Linked DNA regions of Homo sapiens: region 2 is linked to region 1. Evidence: fine-mapped expression QTL. A gene starts in region 1. The other region holds a variant in brackets. All regions are shown on one strand. Distances are from middle to middle. Region 1 holds the start of CEP70 (centrosomal protein 70). Region 2 overlaps LOC124909438 (a long non-coding RNA gene).

Region 1 (2,915 bases):
AAGGGGCAGAACCTTGCTTTGAAGCAAAAGCTGTAGGGAAAACTCCAAGTCAGCCACCTCTTCCCCAAAAGGCGGGGCAGGGGAGGCCAGAGTCTACTTGGCAATATTTAAAGTACAAAACTCATGCAGAGGCTTGAAACCAATATGGGTAATGCCTGCACAGAGTTTAATATATTATACATATATTTTTGAGACAGAGTCTCGCTCCGTCACCCAGGCTGGAGTGCAGTGGCGCGATCTCGGCTCACAGCAACCTCCGCCTCCCGAGTTCAAGCGATTCTGCTGCCTCACCCGCCCGAGTAGCTGGGATTACAGGCGCACACCACCATGCCCAGCTAATTTTTGTATTTTTAGTAGAGACGTGGTTTCATCATGTTGGCCAGGGTGGTCTCGAACTCCTGACCTCAGGGGATCCGCCCACCTCGGCCTCCCAAAGTGCTGAGATTACAGGCGTAAGCCACTGCGCCCTGCCTGTTTAATATCATTGATTGAAAAACAAAGTGGCAGTAAAAAAGGAAACTCTGATTGGTCTCTCTGTTACAGGTGACTTAGCCTTCTGGCATTTTTCACCTTGAAAAACTCCTATTAGGCCCTGTATAAAGTCAGAGGTCTCCTGAATCCGGAATGAGGTTAATAAACTGGAGAAAGAGATACTCACCTGTGCTATTCGCCTAACCGCCCCCTTCTGCTCCGAGTCCTCACTCCCCAAACAACCTTCGCGGTTGTTTGACACAAAACTAGCGCTTCAGCCCGGGTCGATTTTGGGGGATGGAGTAATTACCTACAGCTTAAATCGAGTCTGTGCCCGACGTGATTCTAAGCTTTACTCTTACTGCCTCATTTAACCCTCACAACCACCTTGTAAGGCAAGAATTACCAGCTTTAGTATACAAATAAAGAATCGGAGGCGCTGAGACATTAAAGGAGAAGCCAAAGAACACAAAGCCTGGGGAGCTGGGACTGGAGGCAGTTTTGTCCGATCCCCAAACCCTTACGCAGGGATTTTTAATTGGCGCGACCCTGTCCCAGATGGCTCCTCCCCGACAAGGGTCAGTCTGACCACTTTTAGGCCCAGGTGAGGTCAAGTCCGGGGTACTCCGGGAAGGGGCTCACGCCGACGCCTCTGAGAGCCCCGAGAGCCACTCACCTTACTCAGTCGCCGGCCTCCCACCAGCAGCCAGCCGGGCCAGGTTAGGCTGGGATCAGCTACGTCAGGCCCCGCCTCCGCGACCGTTACCACCGCCGGGGGAGGGCGGCCAATCGAGCCCGAGCGCGTCGAGGGCCAGCCCCTCTTTGGCCTGCGAATGCCCCCAAACGATTCTCTCCAGCCTCTCCGGGAAGCTGGGTCCGCCCCGCTCCCTCCGGTTGGCTCACTACGGGGGGCGGGGCTTACCGCAAACGAAGGCGTCGGTGCGATGTGCTGGTCTCGGGCACGCTGGCGCTTCCAACGCACTCCTTGGGTGCCCTGTCACTTACATGGAGGCTTATTTGCCCGGAAGACGTCAGAAATACTTGTGGCCGTGGGTGAAAGTGAAGCCTGGGTTACCTGGCCACCAGAGACTGCCCTCTCTCTCGCCCCCTACCCCGCCGCGACTACGAGCCCTTGCTGGGGTACGGGTCAGCATGTTCTCGATGTTCCAGACCTGAATGACCACTGTAGCAGCTGACATTTGGAGGACCCCAATAAATATTTGTTGACGACAGTTCATCTTCCCATTCAGCATTTTCCACATCTCGACGAAGCGTCAGGCCCTACCTGAGGCTGTAGCTGTCCACCATTGTCATTGTATCTTATAGCCACATGGTGTCGCTGTTGACAACTTGTCTTTTCAAATCAGTCAAATGATGTAGGTCTGTGTTACAGTCAAATGTTGCAACAGACTGTGTTGCAGTCAAATGATGCAGGTCCCACAGTAGCCAACAGGGATGTCCCATCTAGGGCATCAGCCAAGGGTCTCTCATCAGGAGATCCAAGGGCTCTTGGAGCTCAATACTTTCAGACCCTTCTTAGCCTTCTTCCAGGCAGCTGGGACTACACTTAGGTTTGATCTCTGTGTTTGCCCCATGCAAACATGTCCCTACCCCAACCTACGCCTACCCACTGTGCTTTCCATACCTGGATATTCACTCTAACGACGGTTAGCAGATTGCATTTTCAGTTCTCAAAATGCAAATAGTCTCAGTGCTTCCCTTTTCCAAGATAATAGGGTGCCCTTGCATACTCTTCTGAGAATGGCTGCCCTAATTGTAGAGGCCAAACATCTTTGAGTCAGTTATTATTATTTTGGATGCACGTGATATAGAATCTGAGTTAAACTGTCTTCCTAAAAAATAAAGAAGTTGCTTATCTCGCATAACAGAAAGCTCAGAGGCAAGGGAGACTTTGATTAATTCAGTGGCTAAGCAAGTTAACAAGGACCCAGTTGCTATTAGTCTCTGCTTTGTTGTAAAAAAAAAAAAGGGTAGACTTCAAATTCATACTAACGTGATTTTCCAGATGTCTACTTGGAGAAATCAGGACCACATACTTTCTTTTTCATCTAAAACCTTTCCTTCTGGTTTTTTGAGCCAATAAGTTCACACAGGCACACACTCTTCCTCTTTACCAGTAACTGCCTGGGAAATGTACAGACAGCTTAAGCCTGGGTTCCAGAAGTGAAAAGGAGCTATGACAATTGGAATTGGCAATGGTGTCAGTGCTCTTTGAGTCACATGAGTTGCAAGGTGGAGACATGGCTATTTGAATAAAACTGGAGACCTGTAAAGGAGAAGAGGAAAATGGATGCTAGATGGATGATCACCAGTATCTTTCACAGTCTTCAAAGCACAAGAAGGCTGATTCCTCTCTATTTTCTAACTGAATTTTTTATGTGGTGAATGGAGGGGAAGAGTTGCTATAGCACTGCCCTCCAAAA
Region 2 (2,915 bases), 260 kb before region 1:
GGATTGATTTGGTGTCTTTGTCAAAAACCAACTGGCCATGTAAGTGTGAGTTTCCTTCAGGATTCTCTAGTCTATTCCGCTGATCTAGTTGACCATCCTTATACCAGTACTTGATTACTAGTTGTATAGTAAGTCTTAAAATCAGGTAATCTAAGTCATCCAACCTTGTTTTTCTTTTTCAAAATTATTTGTCTATTTTAAGTTCTTTTACTTTCATACAAATCCTAGAGTCAATCTGTTAATATGTCTGTCTTTAAAAATCCTCTTGAAAATTTGATTAAATTGCATTAAACCTAAAGATTGACTTGGGAAGAATTGACATCTTAATAATGCGGAGTCCTCCAGTCCATAAATAGGATGTGTGTTCCATTTATTCTTTAACTTCAGCAATGTTTTATAGTTGTTAAACCAATCTTGCAAGTCATTTGTATTCATTATGCTATTATTAATGAAATTGACTTTCAAAATTTATTGCCAATTTTGTGCTGCCAGTACATAGAAATACAACTGATTTTTTGTATATTGACTTTGTATTCTGAGATCTTGCTAAACTCACTTATTAGTGCTGGTAGTTTCTTTGTTGATTGTGAGGGTAACTTTGAAAACACAAGATAGTGAGCCATAAAATGGAAGCAGCTAGTCTGAGCCTAACAACCTGCCTTGGACTGTGTTGCATTTTCTTCGTGTCGTAGTAGTCATTGGGGGTTACAATCAAACTGCTCATCTGTATTGTGAGTCCCTGTAGGGCAGGTTGTCCCAGCTACTTCCTAGTGAATCTTTTTTAATGAACCTCAGGTTTCCATCATGACCTGAACGAATGAGCCCTATGCTGCCCACCATTCATGCTTACTGAGAAGTCAGAGGAGATGACAAGGAGACTTCTACATGTTGTAGAGGAAGCTGACCATAGGTCCCTCCTGTTGACCGATGTTTCTCCATGGGTCTCTCATGCATCTGCATATTTTTCAAGCAGAGGCACTGACTGCTTTATTCCCAACAGCCTTTCCAGGAATGTTTATATAGTGAACAACCTTGAAAGATAGAGGTAGTATCTCCTTCTAAAGCAAAGGAAAGGTTTGTTTACAGCCTTGGAAGTTAGAGATAATGTCTCCTTCTGTAGAAAGCATACTTAACTCTTCAGTGTAAAAGCTTTGGTTTCTTGAAGCTAGGATTCTTCTCCTATAACACAACCTGCTGCATGTGCAGGTGTCACCTGGCCCTCTCTGCATTGTCCTATGGGAATCAGTTCAGGAAACCTATGCAAAAATGCTAATACTTTGGTTATTGCTATTGCTTTGAATAATAAACTATCCTTCATCTCTGACCCAGGAGCGACTTATATGTTCTTTCAGCATCCATGATTATGGAAGAATAACTTGTAAGCTTGCAAGGAGGGTAAAATCTCAGATGATTTACAGTTCTTGACACCTCCCTAGAGGTAATGAACTTTGCCCTTGATTGTTGAGCCTCCTAGAGAGCATGCTCTTCCAACCTCCCATTAGAACTCCTTGCCCATACACTTGAAACTTTTGAGGCAGAGCTAGATTTCAGTCAAGCTACAAAGACCTCATTATCGAGGACCACACTCCTCCAGTGTTTCACCCAAAGTTTCCTGAATGGCTGC[C/T]CTGGAGATTTGAGGGCTTAATGCTAAAAGGCCTTAAGCATTTAGAGATCTCTAAACATCACTAATATTTAACTCAAAGATTTGTGTGCATTTTATGGAATACAACATACCACATCCGTATTTGTTTTAATGTAAAAATAACACTTTAAAATTCTAGCCATCAGGGATTTTAAAAGTGTTTTCTAACTGTCTTGTTTGTCAAGACATTTGACGTGATGCTACTGGATGATGCTACTGGATTTCAGAAAATTGGGCTAAATTAGAGCAAGCAAGCCCTGCATTTCAAATTCAGCATCCAGGCAATTTTTTTCTTTGACTTGGTATTACAATATTTCAAGTACTAAAACTCATGAAAACATGTGACCACAAATGAAGATCATTTTTCCATTGTTTTACAAACTGGGGCTCGGTTACTGAGAGATGCTCAGGAAGCTGGCCCCAGGCTATGGGTGGCAGAATGTCATTGTGACTATCTCCTGTTGAGAGGCCACATTGTTCATGTGGCAGGGAATGGCTCTTACCTAAGCTGCTGCTGCTTTTTTTTTTTTTTTTTTTGAGGTCTCACTCTGTCACCCAGGCTGGAGTGCAGTGGCCCAATCATCATTGCTCACTGAGCCTCAAACTCCAGGACTCAAGCAATCCTTTCACCTCAGCCTCCCAAGTAGCTGAGACTACAGGCAAATGACACCATTCCCAGCTAATTTTTAAATTTTTTGTAGAGACAGGGTCTTGCTGTGTTGTCCAGGCTAGTCTCAAACTCCTGGGCTCAAGCAATCCTCCCACCTTGGCCTCCCAAAGTGCTGGTGAAACAGCTCCGTTGTCTCAGGATTTACCTGTGGTTCTTTGTCTCACGCCAAGAAAGAGTTCAGGACACCGACACTCATGAGAAGTGGGTTTAGGAGTGGAAAGTTTAATAGACAAAGAAGAGGAGAAAGAGAACTTCCTCATACTGAGAAAGCGGGTCACCCAAGAGGGGGTCTTTGGTTTGGGGTGGAATGCGATCAGTTTTGTAAAGAGGATTGAGGAGGCAGTAATTGATTTACATAGGGCCTAGGGGATTGGTTTGACCAGGTATGACATTTTACAGAGCTCACGAAAAGACTGACTCTTCTGCCATAGTCTTTTATTATGCAAATGCAGCTTCTACCTGGGGGTCACCATGACACTTGGTTTTACCTGGATGGTGCTGTGACACCCGCACATGTGGTGGCAAGGAAAAGGGAGTGAGAACCACAATATTGGGTGGACCTGGCTCTTAGCCACCTGCATTTACATATGCATATCTATGCTT

Evidence for each region. PIP is the estimated chance that this variant, and not a neighbour inherited with it, causes the effect.
Region 2: its variant is the best candidate, but not a certain one, in a credible set for the expression of CEP70 in adrenal gland (GTEx, PIP 0.63).

The regions. Positions count from the first base shown.
Region 1 is chr3:138,593,051-138,595,965 of GRCh38, forward strand. It overlaps CEP70 (centrosomal protein 70), which reads right to left and starts at 1,210. Exons shown (of 18, transcript NM_024491.4): 1 at 1,148-1,210. RefSeq lists an enhancer at 1,415-1,474.
Region 2 is chr3:138,333,938-138,336,852 of GRCh38, forward strand. All of the region lies in intron 1 of LOC124909438 (a long non-coding RNA gene), which reads left to right. Among named protein-coding and RNA genes, the nearest start is that of NME9, 5.5 kb to the left of the region's middle. The variant C/T (reference allele first, on the strand shown) is at 1,625.